Homo sapiens: one gene and its partners. The protein of the gene in region 2 interacts with the protein of the main gene of each other region in a pairwise test. Each region holds a gene or a part of one and is shown on either strand. Other genes may lie near its edges. The genes, in order: MKRN1, UBE2W, SNURF, RNF115, RNF152, LRSAM1 and AKR1C3.

Region 1 (3,500 bases), on a different chromosome or scaffold from region 2:
GGACAGCTATGACACGGATTCAGAATAAGGTAGAACCCCACTCATGGGGCCTTACTTGTCAACAGTAGAGACCTCTTTATAACACAGTCCCTTGGCATGGACCCCAAGGACTGTGTTATAGCAAGATATATACTGGATGTTATCAGGGTGACAAAATAAACTGTCCTGGGAAGTCAAAGAAGGGTAGGAAGGAGGTAGGAGTGTATAATGCAGCACCATTCTTTTCAAAGTGAACCCAAGCTCTGTTGGGCTCTTCGCTTGAGAAAAGGCTGCAGTGCTCATACCTCATTGCCTCCTTGTATTTCAGAATGAGTTTCTGCTTCTCTTCTTTCTCCTCCACCCAGTACTCACTTGGAATGACAAAGTTAGATGTGATCCGGCATTCTGGGCAGGACCTGGGAAACAATGAACAGGCTGCAATGCAAATTCCCCTTTTACAGGCCCACTCTTCAAGGACACACCCTGGTGTGTCGCCTCCAGACTTAAAGACTTAACTGAAAGGCACGTGGGCATTTCCTGAAAGGGTTCCACATACTGTCACACAACTGACCATTTCTTTCAAGCAAGGCAACCTCCTTTATAAATCCAACTCAAGGGCTAGCCAGTTCTTTTTTTTTTTTTTTGAAAAATATAACTTAGGTAAAAAACAAAAACAAAAGAAGACATTTCACACAGACTCCTTTTTCTTTCGTTTAAATAAATTTATTTCTTGTAGCTTTGCTCTGTTTAGATTATGTGGTTTTTGTTCAGTTATGAGAACAATCTTTAAAGGATGGTGGATTGTTGGCTAGCTTAATGAATGGAATAGGAAAGTGGAAATGTAAAACGTCAGGAAACATACATTCAGAGCTAGATCAGTTTGTTCACTGAGCCTAAACTGGCTAATAATCCATTAAACACAATCTCCTCAGAAAAAGCACGAAGATTCTAACTGATACACAGGGTTTCCTCATTCAAATAAAAGTAGATAGACCAACTAACCTAGAAGCTAGCTGAAATACAAAGAAGAAATCCCCATTAGAATATCCCAGTTTCAAGATAAAATGCATGCATTTAAATGCGGTCCATCTGGTTGAAAGTTGGCACAAGTTACTAAATTCTTCCCCAAAAGAGAAAGCACAAATGAAGACTGGGGAGGAGTCTCACTTTATGATCTTGCTCTCAAATTGCTTAGCACTCCTCCACTTGCGAATGCACTTGAGACAGTAGGTGTGGTTGCAGTTGGAGAGGATCCCGAAGCGGCGCTCACTGGGGTTGGCTTTCTCATAGACCACCTCCATGCAGATCCCACACACCATGTCCTTGCTGCGCTGCACGGCAAATGAGAGCTCCATGTCCTTCTCATGGGCCTCAATGCACGACTAGAGAAGGTGGAGAGAGAACAAGTGGAATCCAGTCATTGAACCCTGAAAAACTTGAGCAACAGTTAATGATTCACAGTCAAAGAATCAAATAGTCAACTGAAAAAACAATGTTCCCAAGCTGACACGAAAATTAGCTTTGCTGACAAGTAAACACAGGTGTGGTGTTTTTTTTTTGTTTGTTTGTTTTTGCGGTGGTACTTAACAATACTAGAAAATCAAACTATGAGGACTCAACTTCGGGAACTGAAAAATTACCCAATTTTCTCTACCCCAAACCTGGAGCTCAACTACATTAAAGACGGTTTTCCATACTGTTTGTTATTTCTGGTTTCTACATGAGGTTAAGACCCTAGTTAAAACCTGTCGGAAAATAAGGGTGACAGGCACGTAAACTCTCTTATGCCTTTAAAGAAAAACAACTTCATCGAGATTTTTCAACTACTCAGCTTGATAGACTGATGCACACTTAGGTTAGGTTAGATTAGCCCACTTTGGGGCTATTATAAATAATGCTGCCAAGAACATTCATGTACCAATTTTTGTGTGGACATCATATTTTAACTTATAAAAAACATGATTATAGGAAACATAAAAATGCAGAAAACTCCCAGCACTTTGGAAGGCCAAGGTTGGGTGGATCACATGAGGCCTGGAGTTCGAGACCAGCCTGGTCAACATGGCGAAACCCCATCTCTACTAAAAATACAAAACTGAGGCAGGCGTGGTGGTGCATGCCTGTAGTCCCAGCTATTCGGGAGGCAGAGGCTGCAGTGAGCCGAGACTGCACTGCTACACTCCAGCCTGGGGGACAAAGCAAGACTCTGTCTCAAAAAAAAATAAAAATAAAAAAAATAACACTGCAGAAGAGCAATGTCATCCATAATCTCACATCATCACTAAACATGTCTTTTCCTAAACCTTTAAAAGAAAAAACATATATACATATATTCAGAGGTAGGTTCTACTACCTCAATATATAGATATAACGTATAGAGATTTATCCTGCCTAAATTCACAAAAGTACGCTGAAGATAGGGATCAAATTATGTCTACCTTATAACATGCCTCACACCCTAAAACCACATTTAAAAAGATGGAAATTTAAAAGAGATGGAAATGATTAGAAGCAAACTTTGCTCCAATAAAGTTAAAGTTTCTAACACAATGTCTTCTGAACCTACCCTGGCTCCCATACACTGCTGCTGGAAATGTAAAATCCTGCAGCCACTGTGGAAAAGTATGGCAGTTCATCAAAACGTAAAGCAGAGTTCCTATGTAACCCAGCAATTCCACTCCTAGGTAACGGAAAACATATCTTCACAGAAAAACCTATATACAAATGTTCCTAGCAGCCTTATTCATAATAGCCAAAAACTGGAAATGATCTAAGTGTCCATCAACTCATGAATGGAAAAACAAATGTGGTCTAGCCATACAAAGACAATAATTCAGCCATCAAAACTAAGAACGGCTACACGCAACCACACAAAGAACCTTGAAAACACTATGTTAAGTGAAAGAAGTGAAGTCAATCACAAAGGACCACATTACAGGATTCCATTTACATGAAATGTCCACAATAGGCCAATCCAGAGACAAAGCAGATTCGTTATTGCCAGGAGCTGGAGGAAGGCTGGAATAAAGAGTGACTGCTAATGGGTGTAGGATGATCAAATTATCCTAAAATTAGTAAAATGGTAATGGTTGCACATCTCTGTAAATATACTAAAAACCAATGAAATGTGCATTTTCAAAAGATTAAACATATTCAATGTGAATCTCAGAAACATTATTTTTTAAAAGAGGAAAAAAATGTTAGAAGTCTATAGTCTGAGTTTCTGGAAGTAGGACTTCTTTTTTTCTTTTGCCTCAACCTCCTGGGCTTGAGCGATCCTCTTGCCTCAGCCTAACAAGTAGCTGGGACTATAGACACATGCCTCCATGCCCAGTTAATTTTGTTCACTGGAAATATGACTTCTTGATAAAGCATCCAAGAAGCCCAAGAAAGGAAAACTTCCCTACTCACTGATAACCATTCAATTCATCAAATGTTTCTCTGAAATAAACCCACAATGCTGTGAAAGGGCAAATAATGATTCTCACATCTAATAACACACACATCTCCCTAAAGACTTA
Region 2 (3,500 bases):
ATGCTTACAGAAATATTATTTTCCTCTGGTGAAAAATCTGTAAGCTCCCAGAGTAAGCCTTCCCCCAATATCTCCCTAGTCAAAAGCTTTTGAATTGGTGTGAAATATTCTTCCTTCCCATACCATCATTGAACTTAGTTGAAGGTAGACAAATAGGCTGATGATGAAAACAGACTGAGATCCTGTTGTCTCCACACATTTACAGTCAGAAATGATGCTGGCCAGCCAGAAAGCAACAAAAGTGATGACAATCTTCTGGAGAGAAGATGTTTGTTCTTTTTATTATAGTCTACAAATGCTTATTGTAGACATCTAGAGGTCACAATAGCACATACCCTTTCACTTTAACTTTTATGAAAATGATAAAAATAAGTCCTAAAAGTCTTGGTAGTTTTCTGCTCATATGAAAATTTTAGAACTTAAGGAGTCAGTATCCATTTAAATCTATGCTTTAAAACAATTATCTCTTTACTTATAGCATGATACAATAACTGACTTTATCTCTTCTCTTACATAACTAAGAAAAGATTAAGCTGTGTTTGGTATATTGTTTAAAGTGACAATGAAATATGATTTTCCTCCAAATAGTACATTTCAGCACCCAACAAGCAAAATTTTCAGTATCTGGGAAATATTTCAGGTATTTGGTTGTATTTTCCAGAATAGCTCATTTGCTAGCAATACTAGAGAGAGCTGGCATCATGTCTTACCATTTTAGCCAACGGATCTCACAAGCCTCAAATTTTAAAAATGAAGTGCTTTGTTATAATTCTCTGAAGAATAAGTAATTATAGTAACTCATTTACTTATCTTACCAAGCCAGAAACCTGGAAGTCATCCTAGAGTCTTCCTTTCTCTAACCTGATTAATCATTTACTATAGTTAAATAGCTCTCAAAAAACATTTCTCTACCACCATTATCCCTTGTCTAAGTATTAAGCTATTAACTAAACTCACTGGGCATCAAATTATAATAATCAGACTTTGTGCTGATGTTTAGATATTTAACATCTGATGATGTACTCTGCCCTTCCTGTACTAAAAGGCTGCAAGGACAGCATGTCAATGCAAAATCATAGTACTCCTTCCAACAGAGAACTTTTCTCTTCACCATGTGATTCTACCATCTGACCTAGGAGAAGTGCCTCCAGTTATTCCAAAATGTCAACTTCTCCGATGGCCTAGAGCAGTGGTCCCCAATCTTTTTGACACAAGGGACCGGTGTGATGGAAGACAATTTTTCCATGGATGGGGTTGGGGATTGGATGATGGTTTTGGGATGGAACTGTTCCATCTCAGATCATCAGGCATTAGATTCTCATAAAGAGCGTGCTATCTAGATCCCTCACATGTGCAGTTCACAATAAGGCTCGTACTCCTATGAGAATCTAATGCCATCGCTGATCTGACAGGAGGCAGAGCTCAGGCAGTAATGCTGCTCACCTCCTGTGTGGCCCGACTCCTAACAGGCCATGGACCAGTACTAGTCCACAGCATGGGGGTTGGGGACCCCTGGCCTAGAGGCCTGGTTAGATTTCTATTCCCTTTTCTGTTAGCATTTATGGATAAGCAACAAATGAAACAATTTTAGAAGCAAAATGCAGTAAAGCCCTAATCCCAATAAAGTGTAATGTTCATATCTTGATTATATGACAAATAAGATAATGAAATAACAAATCCATCTACATACGTATAACTGATTTATATGTTTTTACTGAGTCAAACATCTCTGGCATTTAGCTATCTAAAAATACAAAAAAAAAAATTTAAAGCAAGGCAATTACCTGAGGAGAGTCAAAAGGATATCGACTACTAAATTTAAATAGAAGTTGAAATTTTTCCCCTTCATATAAGGTACCTGGTGCACCTTCCATGTCTACAATCCACCTAGAATAGAAAAGGCAAATTAAAAACTTAAGATAATAGAGACTGGGGTAAGGAGGAGAAAAGAGGACACCAAGTACTTCCTATACACTAAGCACTAGGACAAGAGTTGGTTATGTGTAACAGCACATGCCAGCCTCCCAATAACTCTCTTACTGTTAATTCTCATGACCTATCCCCTTCTCTGACACTCAGCGGTGAAATAACCAGATCAAGGTCAGACAGCTAGCAAAAGACAGAGCCAGGTCTAAAAAAGCAAACTAAATAAAACCCAAGGCCGGGTGTGGTGGCTCACACCTGTAATCCCAGAACTTTGGGAGGCCAAGACAGGCAGATCACGAGGTCAGGAGTTTAAGACCAGCCTGACCAACATGGTGAAACCGGTCTCTACTAAAAATACAAAAATTAGCCGGGCATGGTGGTGTGCACCTGTAATCCCAGCTACTCAGGAGGCTGAGGCAGGAGAATCGCTTGAACCCGGGAGGCAGAGGTTGCAGTGAGCCAAGATCATGCCACTGCACTCCAGCCTGGGCTACAGGGCAAGACTGTCTCAAAATAAACAAACAAACAGACCTCAAACTAAGGTGCACTGACACCAAAGCCTGTGCTCCTCCTAATTGATTTATACTACCTTATTTTTTCAAAGTACCATTTCTACAATGCTGATATTACGTATTCTATACATAACATCAAACAAAGCAACTGCCTCTGATTATTACTGGTGGAAGCCATGGAGAAATACGTATAGACAATGACCACAGAGAACCGTAGCTGTCAGACTTATTTTTTTCATCAACATCCTAGAGAAGATTAACAGGGCAAGGGGAGCTAAATTGACATCAGTCCACTTACTCTGATGATTAAGCAAGGCTTTGTGGTGACTTTCCTTTATCTCTCACTATGTTTCAATTGTTTAATAAAGCCCATTTCTATGCCATCTATGCAAGCCTTTGTTTTCATATATAACAATCATAAACATAAATGTGTTATTTACAGTTTATATACTATTCTTGTTATTTTCTTTAAGATGGGAAGAATAAGGGATAATGACAGCAAAGATAACAGGGCAGCATTAGAAGCAAAAGTGAATTGAAGTCATTAACAATGTGTTCCTAATTATAGCTCTGTCACTTATAATTCTTGTACACCTGGGCAATTCTCTTGAACTTTTCAGTTATTAAACTTTCTTGTATTTAAAATACAAGAAAACAAAAGGAAGATAGAAAATACAGTGTTGGGATTCTAGTCATCACCACGCATACTATGAACCTTGGATTATGTAAAATAATAAATGTACCTATTCTCTAAAAGAAATCAGCTACAGTATACAGACTCTTAAGAGCATGGCTATTCATTTTAAGAATGCACGCTGAGTACCATACATGGTAATAAAAGATACGACCACAGACCCAAGAGACAATATTTTATAGTGAAATTAGACAGTTATAACTGAAGTTATACTGAAGTCGCAGTTATAGTTAATCTTAACTCATTGTGTGAACAAGTTATGTTATCTCTCCAGTTTTAACTACCTCAATAATAAAACAGAAGATAATCACCTCATAGTGTTGTTGGAAAGATAAATGACCCTACATACGTAAAAAACCTAGCACATT
Region 3 (2,167 bases), on a different chromosome or scaffold from region 2:
CTTTCAAATTATCCTGTGTGAACAATCCTTTCTCCCCAGGGGTGAGGGGAGGGAGATGCTGCTAAAGCATTTGCAGGGAGATGTTTAGGCCGTCCTTCATATTGATCCTCCTGACAAGTCACTACCTGAAATATAGAACTTCCAGGGCTATTTAAGGGCTCTTAAAATATGTAAACCAATCATCTACTGGTAAGCAGGGAATTCCAGACAAAAGCCCTCGACATACCCCTATGAATCAGTAACCTGGCTGTGAAATCTGATGATGAGAAGGAAGACATACAGGAAATGACAGCTTGCCTTGAGGTGAGGAGCTGGGGGATCACCAACAATGCTGCCCTTGTTGGCATGTAAGGATTTGGAAATTGGACTTTTTTCTATGGTTTTTCAGTAACATTTTAAAATTGCTTCTGTATAATAAAGAATTTAACTGGCCTTTGCTCCTGGTTCCTGGGAAGTAACCTATACATCCTATACATCCTTGGAATTTACCCAGTGAAAGAAATGTGTTTGTTACTCAAGGTGGGTCCCTAGGATCACACCTGAGTTCTTGGTAATGAGATGTCTCAAGATGGTGACTAACCAGGCCACAAAAGATCAAACAAAGACTAAAGGGTTGGGGTTTTGAGCAAGCCCTCCTGGGAGGGCAGGAGAGTTGCTGACTGAATTCAGTGACATGTCCAGTGATTCAATCTTGTCAACATAATGAATCCCCAACAAAAATCATCGACATCTGGAGTTCTGGTGAGCTTCCTGATTGGTGATATACGCTAATGTGCAGGTAATGCATCCTGAGGACAGGGAAGATTTGTGTGGGACCTGCCCAGATTTTGCTCTATGCATCTGTTCATTTGTATCCTTTATAAAAAAAACTAGTAAGTATAGCACTTTCTTGAGATCTACTAGTCATTTATAAAACCTTAGTCAATTATAAAGTCTGAGAAAATAGTAGGACCTCAGAATCTATAGACTGTTGGTCGGAAGTGTGGGTGCCCTGCCAACCCTGGAGCTTGGAGTTGGTGTCTGCATTGAGGGGAATGTTCTGGAGGGCATCTAGACAACTGTGAAATTTGCACTAACTCCAAGTAGTCAGAATTGCACTGCACATACCTCTAAATCTTCACACTCTAATTCATAGTCTACTTTATACTCTAATTCATAGTCTAATCACTGAATAAATAAATCTTAATTTGGGCATTCTCCACTCTAACCTCTGTTTACAAATGACAACTAAGTTTCTGATTATTATTCATAAAGGTCTAAAAAGTGTTTCAGTAAAAAAAAATATATATAATGTTATCTTGAAACGTAAGATAATTCTCTATTGCAATGTCCCCCTCAGATCTAACCTGTAACCCAATAGAAGATTAAAGACTGAGAAAATGAGGCAGCCTACACAGAATTTAATTCATAGAGTGCAGAATATTAATTTGAAAAGACATGTGAAGCTTAGCATAAAATATATTAAGACAACTCTCCAGCTCCAATTTCCAATTTCCCTTCGAACTCACGATACATCATCCAGCCCCAAAGAATAAGAGCTAATTTAGTGACAAATACACTGAAAGACAGAATAAAAAATTTAAAATAAATCAGTGAACTTTTTATTTTTACTTTATTTTGAGATGGAGTCTTGCTATGTCACCCAGGCACAGCCAATGGCACCATCTCGGCTCACTGCAACCTTTGCCTCCCAGGTTCAAGCGATTCTTCCACCTCAGCCTCCTGAGTAGCTGGGATTACAGGTGCACACTACCACACCCGGCTGATTTTTTTATTTTTCTAGAGATGAGGTTTCACCATGTTGGCCAGGCTGGTCTTGAACTCCTGACCTCAGGTGATCTGCCCACCTTCGCCTCCCAAAGTGCTGGGATTACAGGCGTGAGCCACCGCACCCAGCCTCCTTCATTGATCTTTAGGGCTAATAACCACACAACTCCTCCAGGAAGACTGCCTCCCAATACTACTTATGATTTGGTAGGAAGTAGGAGATGAATGGGTAAATATTGAACACTTCTAGTATAACATTCTAAGTATACCAATCCTGAGAATCCTAAACACATGGACAATGAGGCAGTGTTAACCAATCCTGCTTACCCATTCCATAATCCAATTACTCTCAAAATGAAAACGCACAAGGGGGAAAAATTATACTATTTCCCTAACTCTA
Region 4 (2,864 bases), on a different chromosome or scaffold from region 2:
CTTTACAGTCATGAGGGCCTATCACGCACGCATCTCAGGACAGGTGAGACTTCATTATATCAGGTATTTTGTTGCTATTCTAAGTTATAAGGCAGTAATACAAACTTTCTTTCCACAGCTTTGTAAGCCTTGTGCCAAAAGAAACTTTTAAAACAGCTACAGCAAGATGAGTCTGACTATGGCTTAGTATCTTTCTCATTACAATAGGCACAGAGAAGAATGCAACAGGGCACAGGGGAAGAGATGCTAAATATACCAAGAATCTGTGGAAATATAAGCTGGGGCAAATCAGTGTAATCCTTGACTTTGCTCCTCACCATCAGGGCAAACTTGCCTTCTTCCCTCCTAAGCTCCAGTAAATAAACAGAACAGCTTTCACCAAAGTGGGTAGTATAGTCCTCAAATATCGGATAAATATATGCGTTTTTGTACCCCAGAAAAACTTTTCCTCCCTCTTCATCAACATAGTAAAATAAGTCAAACAAAATGAGAACACCAAATTTTGGGGGAATAAATTTTTATTTAACACTGCAAAGGAAAGAGAGAGAAAACAAGCAAAGATAGGTAGGACAGAAAGGAAGACAGCCAGATCCAGTGATTGACTTGGCATGAAAATGAGAAAATGCAGACAGACCTCAACATTCAACAACATCCATACAGCACTGCTGGAGGAAGAGGAAGATTTGTGCAGACCAAGAGCACCACAGACTACAACTGCCCAGCTTCATCTAAATACTTGTTAACCTCTTTGGTCATTTCTCTTTTTAAATAAATGCCCATAGCAGTATTTGGAGTCTTTTCTTTTCTCCTAAATCCACAAACTCTCTTCTTTCTCTTTGGACAGATGACCTCTTGTCATAGTTAAGCAGAGAGTGGGCAGGATATTCCTGATAGGAGGAACTACATGAATAAAGGGGTAAGAGCACAGAAATTTAGCTACAGCTCCATGGTGAGCCATTAAAAGGAAAGAGACACTTTACCTGTGCTCCTTGGCAAGGACCTGCCAAATGTGGGAGCTAAGGTTTGTGGGAACGGAAAGAGATATGGCTGAAGTAGATGAGTAAGACTCTTATTAGTGATAGTCTTGAACCTCAAACTAAGGATTTTAGACTGTATCCCATGGAGATAAAAGGACTAGCCATGGAGGCAAAAAGACCTGGATTCAAATTCTGGCTCTGCAACATACCAGCTATTTGTCATTGGGCAAATGAATTTTTTTTTTTTTTTTTTGAGACGGAGTCTCACTCTGTTGCCCAGGCTGGAGTGCAGTGGCATGATCTCAGCTCACTGCAACCTCCACCTCCCGGGTTCAAGCAATTCTCCTGCCTCAGTCTCCCAAGTAGCTGGGATTACAGGCATGCACCACCATGCCTGGCTAATTTTTGTGTTTTTGGTAGAGACGGGGTTTCACCATGTTGGCCAGGCTGGTCTCAAACTCCTGACCTCAAGTGATCCACCCGCCTCAGCCTCCCAAAGTGCTGGGATTACAGGCGTGAGCCACCTCACCCAGTGCAAATGAGGTTTTGAGATGCTATTTCTGTTTACCTATCTGTAAAAAGGGATATTGCCTATTGTATCTTCTCTTTCCACAGAATTGTTCTGAGAATCAAAATGAGAGTCTGGATTTGGGACCTAGAGCCATTTGAGTTCTGACTCCAAAGTCTCCAAAGCTTTCTCCACTACATCACATTCATCTTAATCTTTCTCTACCTGTTTTAAATAGTTAGTTCTGTGTTTCTAACTAAATAATAAACTCACATAGGTAGAGATGTCTTTTGTTTTTACTATTCAAATAATCTTCTGGAGCTACTCAACATTATACAATCACTGGAAGTCTCAGAAGATATATCCAACTATAGGAAAAGTTTCAGCCATTGTACTATACTAATTATAGTCCACATATAAAAATCTGTGACACATAATCACAGAAAGGAAACATCACTGCCCAAGTTTATGAAGACATTTAAGAGCATCAGATTACTAGCTCTGACTCAAACTAAGCGGAATATATACAAAGCAATCCCACTTTGTACATACCAACTGAGTCTTGCTTCTAAAGAGTTTATTTACTCTGCTTATCTCGAGACTTGGTTAAACAGAAACTTAAAATACTTGTGTCTTGGCTTTCAAAATGTGTTGATACAATTGCCTTCAAATAAGCCTACAAATTTTCATGCATAATAGGTGGTTTTCTGGACACGCATCTTAGCCCCAATCTGTATGAGTGATTCACAAACACGGGTTTTGAACCTGTGAGGCCATGAGGTTATCAGAAGGAATCTATATACCATAATCTTCAGCCTGAATAAATATCTTTCAAATATTTGTATATATTTCAATTGGATGTAGATTCTGGTGTGACTAATAAATTAACTTAAAAGCATTACTGAAATCATAGCAGCTTTTTGTTATGTATTCTTTAATCAAAAATACTAATAATATGGCTATCAAGTTGTTGGAAGGGAATCTAATAATTTGGGGGTTTTTGTTTTGAGACAGGGTCTCTCTCTGTTGCCCTGGAGTGCAGTGGCACAATCTTGGCTCACTACAACCTCTGCCTCCTTGGTTCAAACGATTCTCCCTCCTCAGCCTCCCAAGTAGCTGGGACTACAGGTGCATGCCACCACACCTGGCTAATTTTTGTATTTTTAGTAGACATGGTGTTTTATTGTGCTGCCCAGGCTGGTCTCAAACTCCTGACCTCAAGTGATCTGCCTGCCTCAGCCTTCCAAAATGCTGAGATTACAGGCATGAGCCACAATGCCCAGCCAAGAATCTAATAATTTTTGGATCTTGAAAATTGTATTTCTTATTAGAAAAAGTAAAGAATCACAGGCTTACATCCTATGATCACAGATCTAAGT
Region 5 (3,500 bases), on a different chromosome or scaffold from region 2:
GGCTTTTTGTTACATGATTTTGCCCCCATTGTAGGCTAATTGCAGGTCACAACTGCTACATCAGCCAGCCACAGGCCCCCTTGGAAGGAACTGTGCCCCCAACCCTCTCCTGCACTAAGCAGGTCCAGGGTGAATGATAACTGGAAGGGTCCCATTCACTGGAACTCTTGGGAAATGTGGCTTGATGACAAGACATCCTGGGACATCTCTTCAATTCACCTCCCTTTATGCAAACAAGCTTGAGTGAATTTCTATTCTTTGCAATTAAACAGAAAGAAAAAGACACTTCAATCGTAGGTGATAATACAAGACAATCTATGACAAGTGGCCTTTGTAGAATGAATGAATGAATGTTGAATGAAATGAGAGATGGAGGCAATTTTGCCAGAGAACTTTGGATTATAAAGAATTTCTAAAGGCTAATGTGATCAAGTTAAATTTTTCAGAAGAGTTGAGAGCTGAACTGAGGCTTCGATGATAGGATAGAGGCAGAGGAAGGAAGAGGACATTTTAGGCCACAGAATGTGCTAGAATAAGAAAGAGGCAATGAAAAACATTTTGGGCAACAGTGGATTAACCATCCCAGCTAATGTTCAGTTTTAAAGTCAGGCGGAGCAAAAGTCGAGGTTGGAAAGGAAGTTTGGGGTCAACCTGGGGAAAACTTGAAAAGCAAAACTGAAGAATATGAGCTTCCTCCCACAAGGGCAACTAAAAGTTATTAAGTGAGGGGATGAAGGATTAATTGGCCTAATGGTCTAAGAGTGACAGCATTTTCCAAACTGGAGTGGGGTGGGAAAGCCAGAAAGTGAGCAAGACCATTGTCATAGCCCAGAGAGAAACAAGGTTCTTGACTAAGATGCGGCAGTGGCAACTGTCACTAAGTGAATCTGTCAAGGAGCAGAAACAGCAATAGTAAGAAGAATGCTCCTGGCTAGGTGCGGTGGCTCACGCCTGTAATTCCAGCATTTTGGGAGCCCAAGGCGGGTGGATCACGAGGTCAGGAGTTCAAGACCAGCCTGGCCAACATGATGAAACCCTGTCTCTACTAAAAATAGAAAAAATTATCCCAGTAATCCCAGCTACTCGAGAGGCTGAGGCAGGAGAATAGTTTGAACCCAGGAGGCAGAGGTTACAGTGAGCTGAGATCATGCCCCACTGCACTCCAGCCTGGGTGACAGAGTGAGACTCCATCTCAAAAAAAAAAAAAAAAAAAAGAATGCTCCCTATTTCTACAGTATCTGTCAAAGCTTTTACCAAAATCTCTTCAATTCTTGTCAAACCTCAGTGAGGAGTGCACCAAGTGTGATTATCTGGATGTCTAGATCAGAACTGAGCCGGGAAAGTTACACTTCCTTGGTAGGTGGGAATGCGATAGTGGCAGGGGAGAGGAGGTTGTAGAAAGAGAAAATACAAGCACAGAACACAGCATTTGGAGATTCTACTTCCTCATAACTTTGCTCCCACCAGCAGCACATCTTCATTTGCTCAGCCCCTCCTTTGCATGAAAGGCAGGTAACCAGGAAGTCTATGTGATGTTTGAGTAAGTTTCATCATGCAGGATGTTTGCAATGAGTTTTATTTATGCAGGCATTAGTATATCAAGGGGTAAATAAGGCATCCTCTCCACTCCTAGGCGATCACAAGCAGCCCCCTCACAACTCCACGAAGAACGTAGTCCAGGCCTTAGCAGCCAAACGTGATCTAGGCCAAGAAATCATGGACATCAAGAACCACCCAAAGGAGATGCAGGTCACAGATACACTATTTGAGGTCTCCCTCTTTAAATCCTACAATGACAGTGAGTCAATTAGAAATTGAAAATCCCTAAGCATGTAACAAGCACAGACGGTTCCCTACTTACAACTGTTTGACCTATGACCTTTGATTTTTTGACTTTACAATGGTGTGAAAACAATACACATTCAGTAGAAACCGTACTTTGAGTGCCTATACGACCAATCTGTTTTTCACTTTCAATACAGTATTCAATAAACTACATGAGATATTTGATGCTTTAATACAAAATAGGCTTCTTGTTACATGATTTTGCCCCCATTGTAGGCTAATGCGCATTTCTGGGCACAGTTAAGGCAGACAAGGCTGAGCTATGATGTCAGTAGGTGTATTAAATGCATTTTCCACTTACAATATTTTTAACTTATGAGGGGTTTATGAGGATATAACCCCACTGTAAATTAAGAAGCATCTCTACCAACTTTATCCCAATTGTGATTTCAATCATGGAGTCAGACTGCTGGATCACACAGTGTAACTCTCGAAGCCATGGGAAAAGAAGCAGGAAAACCAACACCTTCTTCCTTTCCGGTTTCCATGACGTCACAATGGGCAGTGCCAGAAACCACTTTCATGCCACAAGAGTCCTCTACCTGACCAGCCGACTTGGGTATGAAATTAAAGTGGTAGGGACCCAGAGGCCAGAGAAAATATAGAAATGCATTTTGGGGCTTCCCAAATATAGTTCAAGACTAGTCCCTCGGGGCTTTCATTTTCCTTCTCCCTCAGTCTGTGCCTGGCCCTCAGCCCAACCCCAGGCACCCTGAATGGGTTTTTGGATGGTCTATATCTGGTTCTTCCTGCTGGTCTCCAAGCTGCTCATCTCCCAATTCAGAAACGCTTTGGGTGCTACATCTTATCACTTGAATGAAGCCGGGTGGTCTCAACCTCCCTAGGTTGATACTGATATCCCCTCAGTCACTGTGACTTGGAGACTAACATAGTTTACCACACCACTTCCTTATTTGGAGAGCTATCTTTATAAAAATGACTTTGCCAAGGTGATTACTGAACCAAAAGCAATATTATTTTGTTAAATTCTACACTTATGCTTAAGGTATTTATCAAATCTTTAAAATGGCTCACCCGTGCATGCCGTTATCACAATGTGAACAAAGATATATGAGTGAACAGCTCTTCCCAAAGCAAAATCTCTGCAAGCCACCAACTGCTGAATCCAGAGCACCTTGCAATGCCTATTCCATAGCATCCAACTCTTTTTAGGGAGAGTGAGGCAAGGAAGGCTTTAGAACTCACCACCCTCCTAGTCAATACAGTTGCTGATGGAAGCACAAATGTCCCTAAACTCTCTGGGTGTTCTACTAGTCCTGTGACCAGAAAAAGCCTCTTGCCCAAATTGCTTTTTCTAAACATCAAAGTAACAAAAGGGTGACCCAAGGTTACCCTAAACACATTCCTGCCCCCTTCAGATCTTATCTGTTGCCCTGTGGTCTCTGCTGCAGGAGGCCACCTCCTGGGTGGCCCTAGGCCCATTGCCACTCTTTTTCTACCCTGGGCGGTTCCAAACAAACTCAGGAAGCCTTAAACAAGAGGCAGATGGTGAGGAAGAGAAAGTCTGTAAGTAACACCTCTCTATTACATAATGCTAAGCTCACAACCTCCTAGAATCAGCCTTGAAAATACCTAATGGCCTTTCACTTCAGAGTAAACATGCACTTGAAATAGGCAAAGAGAGGATTATAATT
Region 6 (3,500 bases), on a different chromosome or scaffold from region 2:
TTCAACCAAACTCAGGTGCAAAATATTAAAAAAAAAAAAAAGAAAGAAAGCATCTGTAGTGAACACATACAGGCTTTTCTCTTGTCATTATTCCCTAAACAATATAGTATAACAGATTGGGCCTGTGCTGCTGGGCTGACACCTGTGCTGCCGGCCTCCTCTGAAGGTGCATATCACTCTCCCAAGCTCAGGTCTGCGCATAACAACCCTGGGCTCACACCTCCCACATGTTGTGAATGCCTCCCAGCCCATCCGGGGAGGAGCTCACAGTCAGCAGGGAGTCCTTCCAGATCACCTGCGCGTCCCTCCTCTTCCTTCTTGCCTGGGACCATCAGTCTCCTCGCCCTCTGCTAGCTGACTCGCCATGAGGCTGTCACTTGGCTTTCCTCCTGGCATGTAAACTCCCCAGGGACAGGGCCTGTGGCTGGTCATCTTTGTCACCCTAACCCACACACAGCCCACAGAAGTATCCAGTAAACCATACTGATCAAATCCCAGACTGACTGGTAGATTGGGCCCCTCTGACATGCAAGAGGCAGCCCAAAAGGAGCAGGCGCTCAGCTGCCGCGTGGAACCCCATGCAGAGCCCCAGCTGCCTGGGAGGAGGGCCCAGTACCTTGATGGTTGCCAGACTCAGGAGGCTGCAGGATTTGGGAAGCAGGGAAGTGAGGTGATTCGTGTGGACGATCAGCACCTGTGTGGAGAGATGTGCGGCCATGCTGGGCTGAGGAAGAGCAGCAGGCAGGGCAGGCTAAGGGCGTGGGAGCCAGCCCAGCGCCGTGCCACGCCCCACCATCTTGCTCTCCCAGACACCACCACGGGGATGCGGGTCAGTATCATGAACTCTCCCAATGGGGAATCTAATGCCCTTCCTTAAAACCTGGATCTTCAAGGGTGAAAGAGACCTTAGAGGTCTACATCTTCCTTCCATCTGAGAAGGGATCCCCCTGCAGCCATCCTGATCATAACCTTCCCAGCACCAGCGTCTTCACGTGGAAAATAGAGAATAATAAAGTGCTTGCCTCCCAGGGCTGCCATGATGTTAAATAAAAGCTCATGCGCAAAACTTCCAGGGCTGGCAGAGGGGCCAGGGCTCAGTCCAGGTCATCTACTGCTATTTTTCCTTTTCTTTTTTTTTTTTTTTGAGACCAACTCTTGCTCTGTCGCCCAAGCTGGAGTGCAGTGGTGTGATCTCAGCTCACTGCAACCTCCGCCTCCCAGGTTCAAGCAATTCTCCTGTCTCGCCCTCCCGAGTAGCTGGGACTACAGGCGCATGCCACCACACCCAGCTGATTTTTTTTTTATTTTTGGTAGAGACCGGGTTTCACCATGGTAGCCAGGATGGTCTTGATCTCCTGACCTCGTGATCTGCCCACCTCGGCCTCCCGAAGTGCTGGGATTACAGGCATGAGCCACCGCACCCGGCCAATCTACTGCATTTTTCTTAGGCATTGACTGCGGCCCAACACTTCCAGCACAGACTGGGCGTGGTGGCTCACACCTGTAATCCCAGCACTTTGGCAGGCTAAGGCAGGTGGATCACTTGAGGTCAGGAGTTCGAGACCAGCCTGGCCAACATGGCAAAACCTCATCTCTAAAAATACAAAAATTAGTTGGGCATGGTGGTGGGCGCCTATAATCCCAGCTACTCAGGAGGCTGAGGCAGGAGAATTGCTTGAACCCAGGAGGCGGAGGTTTCAGTGAGCTGAGATTGCACCACTGCACTCCAGCCTGGGTGACAGAGCAGAGCGTCCGTCTTCAAAAAAAAAAAAAAACAAACAAAACTTCCAGCGCCAAGGAGCTCACTACTCTGTTGGCAGGGAACACTTTTTTTTTTTTTTTTTTTTGCATATTCTCATTTAGATACTTCACTTAGAGCGCTTCTACCCATCTGCATTCAAAGCTGCAATGCTCTGCTGAAAAATCATTCACTCCCCTCTGAATCTCCCCTGGGTGACCAGAATAAAAGGCGTGAGTTTCTATTATTACTAACACCGGGGTTCATAAGCCTTTACTACGTGGTAGGCATGTACACTCAGTATATTTCTATCTCTATCTAGCTATCTACCACTCATTTAATTCTCACAATACCTCAGGAAGGAGAACTATGAATGTCTTCATTTCACAGGGGAAGAAACTGAGAAGTAAGAGTTTAAGGAAGTTGCCCAAGTCATGAAGCCAGTGAGGGCAGAGTTAGAATGTGACACAGGAAGGTCCAACCCCAAAGCCTACTCTCCTATCTGTGAAAACACCTGCTGCAGGCCAAGAGCATAAGAAGCAGAGAGAAAGGAGGTGTCTACGCCGGGAAGACAGCTCCTCAAAGTCCCTTGTGGGTTCAAACAAGCAGACATGCAACAAGAAAGTCTCTGAAGATGAAGCTCCATCTTACCTTCTTCTGCAGAACTTTGCATGTTGCAAAAGCTCCAAATGGAATCTAAGATAAGATAAAGAAGAGTAAGTGTCTCCCCTCCTGCCAGTTTTTAGCTTGTTCTCTGAGTGGCATTCACGTGAGGAAGAGACAGGCAGGAGGTGAACAAGGGCAAAACGCCACAGCAGGTGGCAGTGCTGAGCCCAGGGGCAAGGCTGGCAAGCAGTGGTGTTGGGGATGTGGCCAGCCCTTCCCTCGGTCAGCTGGCAGGAGACTGCCCTGCCCCACCCACCCTGTCCCCATTGTGAACCCCTTCAGGGGCTGGAGAATGCCAGGCCCTTCCAGCAATGTAGGAGTCTATGGGTACATTTTCTACCTAGACTCCTTGACTCTTGGAGACTACGTTATATTGAGGCCAAAGGATCATCTTCAATTATTTTGGACGAGAACAAAATCTAAGGAAACATCTCGTGACTAGAGCTTCTGGCCTTTCTAAAGCCCCAGTCCACCTCTGTCTTTCCTAGGGACACAAGATCCAAGAAAACGGGACAGATCCAATTCACAGCCCAACACTATCCTCAGTTTACCTCTGAGAGCTCACATTTAGAGATGTCGAGAATGTCATCTGCCCCAGCTTCTTTTGCCTAAGGATAAAAAGAATTTTTAAAAAGTATTAAGACAAAACACCTTTGCAGAGTGGACAAGCCAGGCAAAGAACATAAATGTAAGCAGCTGCAAAGGACCATAGACACTATCTGGTTCCACTGGTCCATTTGGCAGGTGAACCAATGACCCCTGCTTTCCCAGAGCTTGAGGCCCAGAGGGATGAGGAACTGAAAAGCAATGACAGTGCGCTCAGTCTACAGGGGAGAAGCACCCTTGGCAGGGGGCCTCATCTGTTGGGTCTAAGTCAAATATTTCTTCTGTGGGTGGGGGAGGCAGATGGGAAGGAGCACGGCTTGTTGGGGGCAGTGCGGAGGCCTACTCCATGGGGACCGAGGAGGAGATGGGATAGAGTTAGAGGAAACCCACTTTCCCTCACCAAACACATCTGGTACTCCAGGCGTTTCCGAGCCTCCTCACTGGGTTTCCGCTTCCGGAAGAAGAGCGGCATCCTTCCCTTTTCCCAGAG
Region 7 (3,500 bases), on a different chromosome or scaffold from region 2:
GCAGATATACCCACATAAACATTTGCCATAAATATTTGGCAATGTGGCAAAGTGTTAACAATTTTGAATATAAATGGTTATGTTGAATCGTGTATTATTTTTATCAAATTTTCTGAAAGTTTGAAAATTATCATAATAAAAAATTGAAGGACTAATATTAAAACTGCATTTTCTTAATGTTTCTATTTGGATATGATGGAACTGTATCATTAGGCCAAATTCACAAATTTTATACACTTCACATTTCAATGGTAGATCTTTACTCATTGGCTCTAAGTTGTATAAAAGAATAAAAAAGTGTAAATTAGCAAAAAGGTAGAGTGACTTTAATTTTGAATTTTTTTGTGACATTTGGGGGAAGTCAATTTGATCAAGGAGGCCTGGAATCATTAACAATAACTCAGGGGGAAAAAAGGACTTATCCCTAAGCTATGAAAAAACCATGCATAGAATAGATGTGTTTAAACAACTGATTGGATGACAGACCCCAAAGAGAAGTAGCAGACTAAGACATGGGCAGTGATAGGTCAGGTCTATGTTCTGCTAAAGTTCCTCAGTGTTGATTTCATCCACTGTGAACAGTTACCTCCATAAACAGGTAATTTTTCTCTTTTTTTTTGAGACGGAGTTTCACTCTTGTTGCCCAGGCTGGAGTGCAATGGCGTGACCTCGGCTCACCGCAATCTCTGCCTCCTGGGTTCAAGCGATTCTCCTGCCTCAGCCTCCCAAGTAGCTGGGATTACAGGCGTGTGCCACCAAACTCAGCTAATTTTTTGTATTTTTAGTAGAGATGGGCTTTCTCCATGTTGGTCAGGCTGGTCTCAAACTCCCAACCTCAGGTGATCCACCTGCCTTTGCCTCCCAAAGTGCTGGGATTACAGGCGTAAGCCACTGCACCCGGCCTAATTTTTCTCTTTCTGACATGGATGACTTTCATTGTCTGCAGCTAATTTTTAGTATATCTATGCCCCTGGTCAAGAATTGTTGAAACATCAAGAAGAGGCATTCAGACATCCAAATTCCATGTAAACCCCTAGCACCTCTCTTCTCTTATTCTAACTCTCTGTTCACGTACAGCTCATTTCATCTTTTCCTAGCTTCATATCTATACACCATTCCCTCCAAATCACCTTCACCCATGCACTTTCTGGTCATCTTTCATAGCTTAGAGGTAAGTCCACCTTTCCTTGAGTTCTAATTGATGATTCCAGGCCTCCCTGATCAAATGGACCTCCCCTAAATATTACACACGATTCAGCATTAAACTCATTCCAATTTTTCCCTAATACTTTTCCAAGCAGGGTACAAACAAGAAATCTTCACGCCTTTCTTGACAGAAGCTTTGCTCTCTAGATAATCTTCTACTTCACAAAGATAACTGGGACAAAACAAACAGATATTTGGCAATAGGACAGGAAGAGGGGGCATGAAGAACCGAAAGGAGAGAAGGCCAAGGGAGCTCACCTGGTTGCAGACAGGCTTGTACTTGAGTCCTGGCTTGTTGAGGATCATCTCCAGCTGCCTGCGGTTGAAGTTTGACACCCCAATGGACTTGGCCAATCCTGCATCCTTACACTTCTCCATGGCCTGTGGAGAAAGGGGTTGTGAGGAATTATTTGTGCAGTTGGCTGCAAATCACGGTAAATGCAAGACAGAACTGTGAGAGCAACAACTTTCAAAGTATGACAATGAAAATAGCTAGCAGTGATTGTCAAAAAAAGAAAAATTCAAACAGCAAATAGGGGAAGAAGATAGAGGCAGCAAGAGTAAGAATTTCTATCTCTTCCTTAGGAAACTGGATAGATTAATGCACAAGCAAGGAAAGAGATTCCTGTCCTCCTTGCCCCCAAGTCTTGTGCCCCACTCTCTAAACATTCCTTTTGTGTTTTTCCCTTCATCTCACCAAAGCTACTCTTGTAAAGTTTCTGAATTTCTAGATCTAATGGTGCATATTCCATTCTTTCCTATTGAACCTGGGAAACAGATTTTCTCTTTTTGTCATCCTTCTCTGTGTCCTCTCCGCCAAGCACTCACCTCCCAGGTGGTACAGAGATCCACTATGTCAAATATTACTTTTCCATTTTCATCTGTTGGTGAAAGTTCCTCACCTGGCTGAAATAGAAGCAGTCATTTTAATGATGTCACAAATTAATTTCTCCACTCATAGCTGTAACCCCAGGTACCTTTAAGGACACTAATCCTCCATGAGACAGGTGGTACAATGCTCCAGAAAGTGATATGTGCTAAGTGTTTTACATATGAAGGTATAAGGAATGTATTCAGGAGACAGGCTTCCTCTAATCTCTTACAAATATTATATGCATGGAAAAGGACCATTTTCTAGGTCTTAATCAAGTTTCACAGTTGACTTATGTCACTTTATTCCGCCCTTATAATTTCCTCTATTGAAGTACCTCTCTTTGATTTGGAAATACCTTGATATCCAAAAATAATGGATTGTACTCTTGTACACGGTAGGATTATCAGACCACCTGAAGAGTTGATAGTCTTTGGGCAGGACTGTGAATCACATAGGGTCAGCAGAAGTTGGGAGACCCAGAGGAGTTGTCTTATGGTGATGACCATGAGCCTTGAGCTGCTCCAAAGCCATAATCGCCACCAATGAAAAAGTTTGGGTCAACAATAATAAAAAAAAGTGTTGGAGTTTAGAGATAAGAATAGACAAATGATACATTTTTGTAGACTATTTCATATCCTTAAATGTAGCCATGTCTTTGACTTCCCATTTTACATAACTCAGTAAACTCTTTTGCATTAACTAGCCTGAGTAGTTTTCTGTAACTTTAAATCAAAAGTTATACACTACACAGTAATTCCTGGCTAAATACAGCTTCAAACTCTATTGTGAAAGAAGAGGCAGCAGAATAATAAAGCTTTGCAAGTCCACATTAAGGGTTTCTAATTTAAGAACCATGCATAGTGGCTTCCACCAAATCTGCTTCAGCTTGAAATGGGGAGAGATGGTGGAAACTCATTGTGCATCACATGTGCAGCAGTTTTATTGGGCACCACAACTGCATGAAACTCTGTGTCTGGGAACATCCCAAGAGATGGACTCAAAAGCCACAACTAAGACAGTGCCTTGAAAGAGACTATTGTAATTTCAAGTTTTTGAGGAAGAGGCTTTGAGGTTGCTGTACTCTCTTCTCTTGTAGGTGTGCATTAGAGAAGTAGGATTCAAAATTTACTCGAAAGAAAGGAAATTAGGTGTTCCACTTACGGTTCTTCTTCTGTGTGATAATCCCTACATCCTCCTAATAAAAAGCTCTGTTCAACTATCCAGATAAACAATGTTTATAATGACAGCAGAAGCGCAATTTTATGCTCATACAAACTGCATACCTTTAGAGACATTGGAGAATGAATAAGATAGAGGTCAACATAGTCCAATTGAGCTTTCTTCAGTGAGTTTTCCAAGGCTGGTCGGACCAACTCTGGTCGATGAAAAGTGGACCAAAGCTGCAGAGGTTAAAGAATGG

The links.
Region 1: the proteins of UBE2W (region 2) and MKRN1 interact in a two-hybrid assay, tested with the Homo sapiens proteins (one large-scale study listed by BioGRID and IntAct).
Region 3: the proteins of UBE2W (region 2) and SNURF interact in a two-hybrid assay, tested with the Homo sapiens proteins (one large-scale study listed by IntAct).
Region 4: the proteins of UBE2W (region 2) and RNF115 interact in a two-hybrid assay, tested with the Homo sapiens proteins (one large-scale study listed by BioGRID and IntAct).
Region 5: the proteins of UBE2W (region 2) and RNF152 interact in a two-hybrid assay, tested with the Homo sapiens proteins (one large-scale study listed by BioGRID and IntAct).
Region 6: the proteins of UBE2W (region 2) and LRSAM1 interact in a two-hybrid assay, tested with the Homo sapiens proteins (one large-scale study listed by BioGRID and IntAct).
Region 7: the proteins of UBE2W (region 2) and AKR1C3 interact in a two-hybrid assay, tested with the Homo sapiens proteins (one large-scale study listed by BioGRID and IntAct).

Annotation. Positions count from the first base shown.
Region 1 is NC_000007.14:140,455,506-140,459,005, forward strand, and holds part of MKRN1 (E3 ubiquitin-protein ligase makorin-1), read right to left. Parts: intron 1,362-3,500; coding exon 1,147-1,361; coding exon of another isoform or gene 1,143-1,146; exon of another isoform or gene 710-1,142; intron 396-709; coding exon 285-395; intron 1-284. UniProt on the Homo sapiens protein: E3 ubiquitin ligase catalyzing the covalent attachment of ubiquitin moieties onto substrate proteins. These substrates include FILIP1, p53/TP53, CDKN1A and TERT.
Region 2 is NC_000008.11:73,823,363-73,826,862, forward strand, and holds part of UBE2W (ubiquitin-conjugating enzyme E2 W), read right to left. Parts: intron 1,888-3,500; coding exon 1,785-1,887; intron 1-1,784. UniProt on the Homo sapiens protein: Accepts ubiquitin from the E1 complex and catalyzes its covalent attachment to other proteins.
Region 3 is NC_000015.10:24,964,987-24,967,153, reverse strand, and holds part of SNURF (SNURF protein), read right to left. Parts: intron 126-2,167; exon of another isoform or gene 2-125; intron 1-1.
Region 4 is NC_000001.11:145,738,368-145,741,231, forward strand, and holds the end of RNF115 (E3 ubiquitin-protein ligase RNF115), read right to left. Parts: 3' UTR 501-2,864; downstream 1-500. UniProt on the Homo sapiens protein: E3 ubiquitin-protein ligase that catalyzes the 'Lys-48'- and/or 'Lys-63'-linked polyubiquitination of various substrates and thereby plays a role in a number of signaling pathways including autophagy, innate immunity, cell proliferation and cell death.
Region 5 is NC_000018.10:61,886,508-61,890,007, forward strand, and holds part of RNF152 (E3 ubiquitin-protein ligase RNF152), read right to left. Parts: intron 1-3,500. UniProt on the Homo sapiens protein: E3 ubiquitin-protein ligase that acts as a negative regulator of mTORC1 signaling by mediating ubiquitination of RagA/RRAGA and RHEB.
Region 6 is NC_000009.12:127,454,510-127,458,009, reverse strand, and holds part of LRSAM1 (E3 ubiquitin-protein ligase LRSAM1), read right to left. Parts: 5' UTR 3,483-3,500; coding exon 3,411-3,482; intron 3,013-3,410; coding exon 2,956-3,012; intron 2,435-2,955; coding exon 2,390-2,434; intron 695-2,389; coding exon 617-694; intron 1-616.
Region 7 is NC_000010.11:5,097,414-5,100,913, reverse strand, and holds part of AKR1C3 (aldo-keto reductase family 1 member C3), read right to left. Parts: intron 3,481-3,500; coding exon 3,364-3,480; coding exon of another isoform or gene 3,316-3,363; exon of another isoform or gene 2,738-3,315; intron 2,113-2,737; coding exon 2,035-2,112; intron 1,588-2,034; coding exon 1,465-1,587; intron 1-1,464. UniProt on the Homo sapiens protein: Cytosolic aldo-keto reductase that catalyzes the NADH and NADPH-dependent reduction of ketosteroids to hydroxysteroids.